Homo sapiens: one gene and its partners. The protein of the gene in region 2 interacts with the protein of the main gene of each other region in a biochemical or structural test. Each region holds a gene or a part of one and is shown on either strand. Other genes may lie near its edges.

Region 1 (3,654 bases), on a different chromosome or scaffold from region 2:
GGTGATCCTGGGAACGAAAGTGATTTCATAGTGAGGACTTTTTTTTTTTAATTAAATTTAGGCTTGAGGGATGGTGTTTGTTCTTTGTTCATGTAAGACAGTGTCTTGCTTTGTCACCCGGGCTGGAGTACATGATTGAGGCTAACTGCAGTCTCGACATCCTGGGCTCAAGCAATTCTCCCACCTCAGCCTCCCAAGTACCTGGGGCTACAGGCACATGCCACCACACCCAGCTAATTTTTTAAATTTTTGTAGAGATGGGGTCTTAACTATGTTGCCTGGGAAATCTGGCTTTTTAATAAAGAGTCTTAGTCATGAATAGAATATTTCCTTTCAATCCATTATTTAAATGAATTTTAAAGGTGCCTTTTTTCTCCTCCTTTTTTTTTTTAGTTTAATACAATTTTTTAGTAAAATGAAGAAATGGATGGACATGTCAAATCTACCACAAGAATTTCGTGAACGTATAGAAAGGCTAGAGAGAAATTTTGAGGTGTCTACTGTAATATTCAAAAAATATGAGCCAATTTTTTTAGATATATTTCAAAATCCATATGAAGAACCACCAAAGTTACCACGAAGCCGGAAGCAGAGGTGAGCCCTTAATCCTTATATAATTGACATAAAGATTATGATACAAACTAAGAGAATATACTTTTTTGAAAGTCTGTTTTTTATGAAAAGTATTCCTGCAAAGAACTTAATTATTTTCTTTTTAAATCCATGTACAATTATCCATATTTGGAAATTCAGGATAATACTTTTACTTATTTTTCTTTCTGTTGTTGTTTTTTTTTTTTTTTTTTTTTTTTTGAGGAGTCTCATTCTGTTGCCCAGGCTGGAGTGCAGTGTCCTGATCTCGGCTCACTGCAACCTCTGTCTCCCAGGTTCAAGCAATTCTCCTACCTTAGCCTCCTGAGTAGCTGGGATCACAGGTGTGCACCACCCCGTCTGGCTCATTTTTTGTATTTTTAGTAGAGACCAGGTCTCACCGTGTTGGCCAAGGTGGTCTCGAACTCCTAACCTCAGGTGATCTACCCACCTCGGCCTCCCAGAGTGCTGGGATTACAGGCATGAGCCACCACACCCAGCCCTATGTTCTGATTATTTTATGCAGGTTGGAAAGGCTTACTTAAGTCCATTTCATAAATAATAGATTACTTTTCTTCATGAATGGAATTTCATGTGTAATTTGATCTATTTGATATTTACATTTACTATTTCAGTTTACATGATATTTAGCGAGCTAGTCAGACAAAAAGTAATTTTTTTCCCTTTTTAGGAGGATTCCTTGCAGTGTTAAGGATCTGTTTAATTTCTGTTGGACACTTTTTGTTTATACTAAGGGTAAGATGACACTTTCAGTGGTCTTACATTTCTACTCTGGGAACTTGGTGCTATTTGACATGAGAGGTTTCTGGTTTTTGTGTCTTTTTTTTTTTTTTTTCCCTTATAAAGGTAATTTTCGGATGATTGGGGATGACTTAGTAAACTCTTATCATTTACTTCTATGCTGCTTGGATCTGATTTTTGCCAATGCGATTATGTGCCCAAATAGACAAGACTTGCTAAATCCATCATTTAAAGGTAAGACCTTTTATTTATTTTTGAAAACTGATTATCAGTTTTTGGAAAAAGATTTTTAAAAGTTGACTATTTTTTTTTCCCTCTGCCCTTCCTACACTGTCAAACTAGGTTTACCATCTGATTTTCATACTGCTGACTTTACGGCTTCTGAAGAGCCACCCTGCATCATTGCTGTACTGTGTGAACTGCATGATGGACTTCTCGTAGAAGCAAAAGGAATAAAGGAGCACTACTTTAAGCCATATATTTCAAAACTCTTTGACAGGAAGGTACTGTACTTATAATTAGATGACTGAGATGTTTACAGATCACCAGTAATGTGAAAAGAAAAAAATGTTTTAAGCAAGTTCTCAGCATTATAGAACTTAGGGTCAGGATTCCCAGGCTTTAGCCTCTACTGTGATTCAGAATTTCCTTATGATCTTGTGTGATGTGAGAAACAGAGCTGTTGAAAAATGTGACCAACTATATGTACTGTTGGGTAAATGTACTGTCAGAGGCAACCGTAGGAGGTACTGATAAAGAATTGTAAAGAATAGAACATCAGAGTAGGGCTGACAAATAATTAGGAAAAACAGGAGGTCAGAATAAGCTGACTAATTTACTGCCACAATTTGAATAACTGCTGACTGTTGACTAAAAGTAGGATGATGTATAACAACCACAGTTTTAATTCCATGTAAATCGAGCAGAAAATCCATGATAGTTTTGTAGCCACTTGTAGGCTATCTGTGTGCATTCTGGACATTGTCTCCTTGGTAATTAACTTAGCTATTTCTACATTTATGAATTGGCTTGTTCCTTTGGGTTTCAATTTCTTATTTCCCCAACGTCGAGCCATTAAATGTAGTTAAGCCTCAAGATTTCTCTTTGGTAAAAGGAGGGGTTTGGATTATGGATCCCACTTTTCAAATATTATGAGATTTTTCTTTAAGCATAAATTCTTCCCTTACTGGTTTCTTCTTCTTTTATACAAATTTTTGTATTCAGTCTTGTGTTCCTCAGATATCTATATTATGGCCCATTGTCTGTATGCTAAACATCTCTAGCAAAGTAAACTTTTTTTAAAGGATCCCAGGGACTGGGCGCGGTGGCTCACGCCTGTAATCCCAACACTTTGGGAGGCCAAGGCAGGTGGATTGCTTGAGCCCAAGAGTTCCAGACGAACCTGAGCAACATGGCAAAACCTTGTCTCTACAAACAATACAAAAATTAGTTGGGCATGGTGGTGCACAACTGTAGTCCCAGCTACTTGGCACGCTGAGGCTGCAGTGAGCCATGATTGTACCACTGCACTGCAGCCCTGGTGACAGAACAAAACCCTGTCTCAAAAAAAAAAAAAAGTTAAAAAAAAAAGTTATTTGCATGCTAAATAGTTTATCCTAGTCTGAAAGAAATATTTAATAATTCTGTTTTGTGTGTGTGTTATAACAATATGGAAATTTAGATAAATTTCACGTTTGTGTGTGTATTAATATGCTTAATTATATGGTGTCCCAAAATAATTTTTTGTTCACAGATATTAAAAGGAGAATGCCTCCTGGACCTTTCAAGTTTTACTGATAATAGGTAAATATCTAGTACTAATGGTGCCTGGCTTATCACAAGCTGTCATATTTGTTGATTTGTTGAAATTTGTTAAGCATAACAGTATATCAAAGTAAGACCTCCAAATTCAAGTTCTCTCTGCTTTAGTGGCATTGAATGTTTATTATCACTAAGACTTGTTGGCTTTAAATACATTTATTTTAAGAAATCAAGGCCAGGCACGGTGGCCCACACCTGTAAACCCATCACTTTGGAAGGCCAAGGCAGGCAGATTGCTTGAGCTCAGAAGGTTGGAGACCAGCCTGGGCAACATGGTGAAACCCTGTCTCTACAAAAAATACAAAAATCAGCCAGACGTAGTGGTGTGAGCCTGTGGTCCCAGCTACTTGGGAGGTTGAGGTTGGAGGATCGTTTGAATCTGGGAGGTTGTGGTTGCAGTGAGCCGTGATTGCACCACTGCACTTCAGTCTAGGTGACAGAGTGAGACCCTATTTCCAAAAAAAAAAAAAAAAAGAAAGA
Region 2 (3,654 bases):
GCGATCTCAGCTCATTACAACCTGCACCTCCTGGGTTCAAGAGATTCTCCTGCCTCAGCCTCCCGAGTAGCTGGGACTACAGGGGCCCACCATCATGCCCAGCTAATTTTTGTATTTTTAGTAGAGACAGGATTTCACCATGTTGGCCAGGATGGTCTCGATCTCTTAACCTCGTGATCCGCCTGCCTCAGCCTCCCAAAGTGCTGGGATTACAGGCGTGAGCCACCATGCACGGCCTGATCAAAGACTCTTTTTTTTTTTTTGCAACCGAGTCTCACTCTGTTGCCAGGCTGCAGTACAGTGGGGTGATCTCGGCTTACTGCAACCTCCGTCTCCTGGGTTCAAGCAATTCTCCTGCCTCAGCCTCCCGAGTAGCTGGGACTACAGGTATGTGCCACCACACCCAGTTAATTTTTGGATTTTTAGCAGAGACGAGGTTTCACCATGTTGGCCAGGGTGGTCTTGATCTCCTGACCTCGTGATCCACCCGCCTCAACCTCCCAAAGTGCTGGGATTACAGATGTGAGCCACTGCGCCTAGCTCAAAGACTCTTAAGCATAGAGGGAAAAGCAGTATCATAAAGGTTTTTTAAGATAAACAAGATGCAGGACATTAGCTATATGTCCATATGCCCCCAGTGAACTTTCTCTCATAGAATTTTCCAGAAAGTTCTCTCACAGCGCTGCTGGGCACATTCCAAGCCACTGGGCAGCTCTGATGTTTAGAGGCCACTCATGATAATATTCTGGGTGAGCAACTTCACTCACAACCACAATTTCCTAAAGAGAACCAGAAACAGGCTGGGCGTAGTGGCTCACGCCTGTAATCCCACCACTTTGGGGGGCCGAGTCGGGCGGATCACAAGGTCAAGAGTTTGAGACCAGACTGGCCAACATGGCGAAACCCCGTCTCTACTAAAAATACAAAAATTGGCCAGGCGTAGTGAAAGGCGCCTGTAATCCCAGCTACTCAGGAGGCTGAGGCACGAGAATCACTTGAACCTGGGAGCCAGAGGCTGCAGTGAGCCGAGATCGTGCCGTTGCACTCCAGCCTGGGCGACAAGTGCACAAGACTCCATCTCAAAAAAAAAAGAGATCCAGAAACAAGGCCTCAAGCACCACTATTCAACCACTGAGGTATGTTCATTTTCCTAGCAAACACTAGTCAGTGTCCAACAGAAAGCACCTGCAGACAGTGACCAGCAGGTGGGACAATTCACATAACTCACTTTTCTGACGATGGGTTGCTGGCCTTCTACACAGCCGTACCAGTTTAGTAGTTTATTCCACGCCTCGGTAGGGACCAATACATAGTCCAATTCATCAATTAAGTGTTCTTTCAAGGTCTGACTCTCAGGATCTAAAAAAGGAAAAGAGCACATAAGTCACTGCTCTTTACCCCAGAAATGATGGTTTTACATGATTTCCATGTACTTTTCAGAAATAAGAAAATTATTTACAGAAAGAAACAGGAATGAAATTCCAAAATTCTGTCACTGGTCATTATACAGAGCAGACTTTTGTCTTTATCCATGTTTTCTCTTTATCCATGAAGATTTTATGAGGAATTTGTATTTCTTCTATAATTGGAGGGAGAGAAGAGGATAAAAAAGAAAAACTCCAGGCTGGGTGTGGTGGCTCACACCTGTAATCAGCACTTTCGGAGGCTGAGGCGGTTGGATCATGAGGTCAGGAGTTTGAGAGCAGCCTGGCCAACATGGTGAAACCCCGTCTCTACTAAAAATATAAAAATTAGCCGGGTGTGGTAGCGGGCACCTGTAGTCCCAGCTACTCGGGAGGCTGAGGCAGGAGAATTGCTTGAACCCGGGAGGCAGAGGTTGCAGTAAGCCAAGATCACGCCACTGCACTCCAGCCTGGTGAAAGAGCAAGACTCCATCTCAAAAATAAATAAATCATACATGAGGTGGTTATGGTTTCCCACCATCCCTCCGACTAGTTTACACACCTTTTTCAGGGCAGGGTTCCTTTGTTGTCATTTCAACAATGCTCATAACATCTTCACCAGACATAGATTCCATCTCAAGAAACCATTTTCTTTGCTCACCCATAAGAAGCAACTCCTCAGCCATTCAAGTTTTATCATAAGATTAAAGCAATTCAGGCCGGGCATGTTGGCTCATGCCTGTAATTCCAGCACTTTGGGAGGCTGAGGCAGGCAGATCACTTGAGGTCAGGAATTCAAGATCAGCCTGGCCAACATGGTGAAACCCCATTTCTAGTAAAAATACAAAAATTAGCTGGGCATGGTGATGCATGCCTGTAGTCCCAGCTACTCGGGAGGCTGAGGCATAAGAATTGCTTGAACCCAGGAGGTGGAGACTGCAGTGAGCCGAGATACCCCACTGTACTCCAGCCTGGGTGACAGAGCAAGACTCTGTCTCAAAAGAAATAAAAATAAATAAAAATTAAAATTAAAAATAGGCCAGGCGCAGTGGCTCACACCTGTAATCCCAGCACTTTCGGAGGCCGAGGTGGGCAGATCATGAGGTCAGGAGTTCAAGACCAGCCTGGCCAGGGTAGTGAAACCCCGTCTCTACTACAAACACAAAAATTAGCTGGGCATGGTGGTGCACACCTGTAGCCCAGCTACTTGGGAGGCTGAGGCAGGAGAATTGTTTGAACCCAGGAGGCGGAGGTTGCAGTGAGCCAAGATTGCGCCACTGCACTCCAGCCTGGGTGACACAGCGAAACTCCATCTCAAAAAAAATAAAAATAAAAGTAAAAATAAAAAATAAAGCAATTCAGTCACATCTTCAGGCTTCACTTCTAATTCTAGTTCTCTTGCTATTTCCACTTTTGCTGTTACTTCTCCCACTGATGTCTTGAGCCCGTTGAAGTCATCCGTAAGTGTTGGAATGAACTTCTTCCAGACTCCTATTAATGTTGATTTTGACCTCCCATGAATCATGAATATTTTTGTGTGTGTGTGTGGGCAGGTGGGAGTGGCAGGCCTTACTCTATCACCCAGGCTGAAGTGCAGTGGCATGATTACAGCTCACTGCAGCTTCGACCTCCCAGACTCAAGCAATCCTCCTGCCTTAGTCTCCCAAGTAGCTAGAACTACAGGTGCATGCCACCAGGCCTAGCTAATTTTCGTATTTTTTATAGGGATGGGGTTTTGCCAAGTTGCCCACCCTAGTCTCCAATTCCTGGGTTCAAAGGATCCACCTACTTCAGCCTGCCAAAGTCCTGGGATTATAGGTATAAGCCACTGCACCAGGTGGAATCATGAATATTCTTAATGGCATCTAGAATGGTAAATCCTTTCCAAAAGGTTTTCAATTTAATTTGCCCAGATCCTTCAGGAGAATCACTATCTATGGCAGATAAAGTCTTATAAAATGTATTTCTTAAATAATAAGACTTGAAAGTTGAAATCAAATCAGGCACGCTGGCTCAGGCCTGTAATCCCAGCACTTCGGCAGGCTGAGGCGGGAGGATCACTTGAGGTCAGAAGTTTGAGACCAGCCTGGCCAACATGGTGAAACCTGGTCTCTACTAAAAATACAAAAATTAGCCAGGTGGAGGGACGGGCACCTGTATCCCAGCTACTCAGGAGGCTGAGGCAGGAGAATTACTTGAACCTGGTAGGAGGAGGCAGGAGAATTGCTTGAACCTGGGAGGGAGAGGTTGC
Region 3 (3,654 bases), on a different chromosome or scaffold from region 2:
AAACAGTTAATGAATGGATTCTGATGCTTCAAATGGATTCAGGCTCACCAAGGTGCTAATCCACAAATCAGACACCTGTGATTTAATAAATACTGAAAATATTCACACCTGAAATGAAAGCTAAGCTCTCCATGCTTGGGCCAGTACACATCCTTTACATTCTAGTCATGCTAGAAATCTCTTACGCTGGCAGAAAACTGTGACACTTAGAAAAATATGACACCACATAAGACCACATTTAGCTAGCTGGACACAATAAAAGAGACCAATAAAACAGTCTTCTTGCAAACAAGTCTTTGGGTAGCAAACTATCTTACCAATTTTCTGTAGTGTCACAATTGTTCTAACTTCATAACCTAATTAGCAATAACATTTCATTTGGATCCTTCCAGGATGGGAAATTCTTACCTAGAGAACACTTCTTTTCCTGGTTCTGGGCTTGCCGAATATAAAGCACTATTTTCTGCACTTATCTAAACCATGGGGTAGCCATCAGCATCAACACCCTACAGGTTAATGGAGATACTTGAGAAGCTTGCTTTCCACAGAAATAAAGATCTCTATACAAAGCTTTTTGGGAAAAGTGTGTAGGTGATACTTTTGGATCTCTAACAACCACACTAAAGGCAGAAGGAAATGACTAGCTTATAAAAACAAACTGAAACATTCAGAAAGTTGTCTAAAATGGGTCAGATCCATACATGAGAAACACTTTTATGATGTCTGCTAGTACCAGGGTAATTAAATCTCAAAGATACAGAGAAAATACAACAGGAAATAATGACTTCCATTAGAAGTTAGAGCCTTTTCCTATTTTAGATCTTCATTTCTCACCCCAACACACACCAACAATTAGACAGACATGAATTCTCCTGCAGTGGCTATGTCAGACTGCCAAACTGAAGATCTATGTATTTCTCTAGCAAAGGGATATCTGAACTCCAGTCCAGTTGCTTCACACTTTCCCTCACATATTTTTTGCAGCAGCAATTCAAGATTCTTGTTCCATATATAGGATTTGAATACTTCCTTATTATTTTTTACTTAAGCTTTTCTGTATGCAAGGTAGTAGTCACATCCATTTTATGACAGCTTATGTCCAGATATGATAGTCTTACAGGTTAAGTCTGTTAAACTTTACTTTCTGAAGAAATTGAAAAGTGAATATTGTCAAAAGTACCCAACATTAGATTAAGTATTATATGTACATAATTTTTTTAACACCAGAATCAATTTTTAAGATGTAAACTTTAAAAAAGACAGTTAAAACGTATAGCATAGAAAAATTTAAATGTTGATAAAAGCAGATATAGTTTCTAACATATTAGGTAAAAATTCTTTGTAGAAAAAGCATAAAAGAAATAATTCTGTCTGGTCAAGTGCATTAATTATTTACAAAGACACAGTAGTCAGTGTGATCTTTTAAAATGTCATCAATCAAATCTTAGTATTCCTTTGGTCAAAACCTTCATTTAAGTTTTCTATCACACTTAGAATAAAATCTTAAGGCTTTATCATGTCACCATGGCCAGGTTCTTTCTCACTTTCTGACCTCATTTCCTACAGCGTCTTCCATCACATACCTTCCCTCCAACATGCCATGCTTGTTCCTGCCTCAGGGGCTTTGTTATGGTGGTTGTCCCTCTTCTTGGAACATTTCTCCAGCATCTTACTGCCTTATTTTATGTGGGTGAAATGTTATATCCTCAGAGAATCCTTTAGTGCCTGCTCTGCTCTGCCACCATTGTCTGTCCCTAACCTGGCTACATTTTTCTTTATGGAACTTCCATTACTTGGAATCATATTTATTTGCATATTTATTTTTGTCTCATGTAAAAGTTTCACAAAGGTTAAGAACAATGCTGTCTTATTTACTGCTGTATCCCTAGAGTCCTGGCACACTACCACCATCGTAATTGCAAACATTTACAGAGTGCTTACTATGTGCCAGGCCCCGTTTTCAGCTTTCCTACTTCATTGTACAACAATCCTCAGAACAGTTTTAGGGGCCAAAAAAAAAAAAAAAAAAGAAGAAGAAGCAGCAAAAAAAAAGGAACACAGAGGTTAAGTAACTTACCCAAGATTTAACATAAGTGGTGCAGCTAGGATTTGAACCCACCAATCTGATTTCACAGCCTGAGCTCATAGTTACTACATTATTTTCATGCAAGCAAATTAATACAAAATACCCAGTAATTATGTCAATATGTGTATTAGTGAATAATTAGCTTTAAAGACAATTCAAGTAACATGAATGGCTTCTAAAGGATTCTCTGAGGAAATTATATTTTAATCATCTCCTGATGTTCTCTGCCATATTTAGATATTTTAGTCCAATAATAAAGGTTAGAAATTTTCCTAAATGTTCAGATTTCAAGAAATCAACACACTAAAAATTTATATTCTAAGCACAAAGTGTAAGTACATTAAGTCACCAATACATTTTCAAGTCAGAGCCATTCACTTAGAAGGAAGAGAGGCCTTCTAACAACTGAAGATTATACCTGTGCAAATTGTCATAGCAGAGCTCACAGCTATGCATCAGTGCATATAATAAAGTCAACTGGCCGGGTGCAGTGGCTCATGCCTGTAATCCCAGCACTTTGGGAGGCTGAGGCAGGTGGATCACCTGAGGTCAGGAGTTCGAGACCAGCCTGGCCAATACAGCAAAACCCTGTCTCTACTAAAAATACAAAAACTAGCCAGGTGTGGTGGAGCGTGCCTGTAATCCCAGCTACTTGGGAGGCTGAGGCAGGAGAATCGCTTGAACCTGGCAGGTGGAGGTTGCAGTGAGCCAAAATGGCACCATTGCACTCCAGCCTGGGCAACAAGAGCAAAACTCCGTCTCAAAAAATAATAATAATAATAAATAAATACATAAATAAACTCAATACTCCCTCTAAAGGCTCATAAGTTACAAAATGAATCTCTTTGTAATCTTCAACTTTATAACTTTCTGAATTTTAAGTGAACCTGAATTTCCTAAAAGCAAATTAGACAGTATAATGAATAAGCCCAAGACACATGTGCAAGATGGATTTTCCTTCAAATCTGCAATAGAATTGCAACTAAAGCCTTAAATTGAAATCATACCTGCTGAATGGGACTCTGTGCCTGAAACAATATTCTTCGTCCTAGTAGTTCTGCAAAGATACATCCCACAGACCAGATGTCAATAGCATTGCTGTAATGACGGCTGCCCATCAGGATTTCTGGAGCCCGATAATACTGAGTAACAACTTCCTGAGTCATATGACGGGATTCATCTAATTCTTCCACTCTGGCCAATCCAAAATCACAAATCTAGACAGAAAAGGCAATCAAAACATTATCAAGCAAATACAAATGAAAGAGTAAAACAAAACATCAAAATTTTGATAGGGCACTGAACTTTGAAACTTTTTTTTTTTTTTTTGAGATGGAGTCTCACTCTGTCACCCAGGCTGGAGTGCAGTGGCACAATCTCAGCTCACTGCAACCTCTGCTTCCTGGGTTCAAGGGATTCTTCTGCCTCAGCCTCCCGAATAGCTGGGACTACAGGTGCCTACCACCACGCCTGGCTAATTTTTTTTTTTTTTTGTATTATTTAGTAGAGAAGGGGTTTCACCATATTGGCCAGGCTGGTCTCAAACTCCTGACCTCAGGTGATCCATC

Evidence for each region.
Region 1: the proteins of USP4 (region 2) and RBL1 form a complex in vitro, tested with the Homo sapiens proteins (one study listed by BioGRID).
Region 3: the proteins of USP4 (region 2) and NLK form a complex in vitro, tested with the Homo sapiens proteins (one study listed by BioGRID).

The regions. Positions count from the first base shown.
Region 1 is NC_000020.11:37,064,926-37,068,579, reverse strand, and holds part of RBL1 (retinoblastoma-like protein 1), read left to right. Parts: intron 1-393; coding exon 394-594; intron 595-1,282; coding exon 1,283-1,347; intron 1,348-1,458; coding exon 1,459-1,587; intron 1,588-1,695; coding exon 1,696-1,856; intron 1,857-3,106; coding exon 3,107-3,156; intron 3,157-3,654. UniProt on the Homo sapiens protein: Key regulator of entry into cell division. Directly involved in heterochromatin formation by maintaining overall chromatin structure and, in particular, that of constitutive heterochromatin by stabilizing histone methylation.
Region 2 is NC_000003.12:49,326,458-49,330,111, forward strand, and holds part of USP4 (ubiquitin carboxyl-terminal hydrolase 4), read right to left. Parts: intron 1,360-3,654; coding exon 1,229-1,359; intron 1-1,228.
Region 3 is NC_000017.11:28,168,097-28,171,750, reverse strand, and holds part of NLK (serine/threonine-protein kinase NLK), read right to left. Parts: intron 3,304-3,654; coding exon 3,094-3,303; intron 1-3,093. UniProt on the Homo sapiens protein: Serine/threonine-protein kinase that regulates a number of transcription factors with key roles in cell fate determination. Positive effector of the non-canonical Wnt signaling pathway, acting downstream of WNT5A, MAP3K7/TAK1 and HIPK2.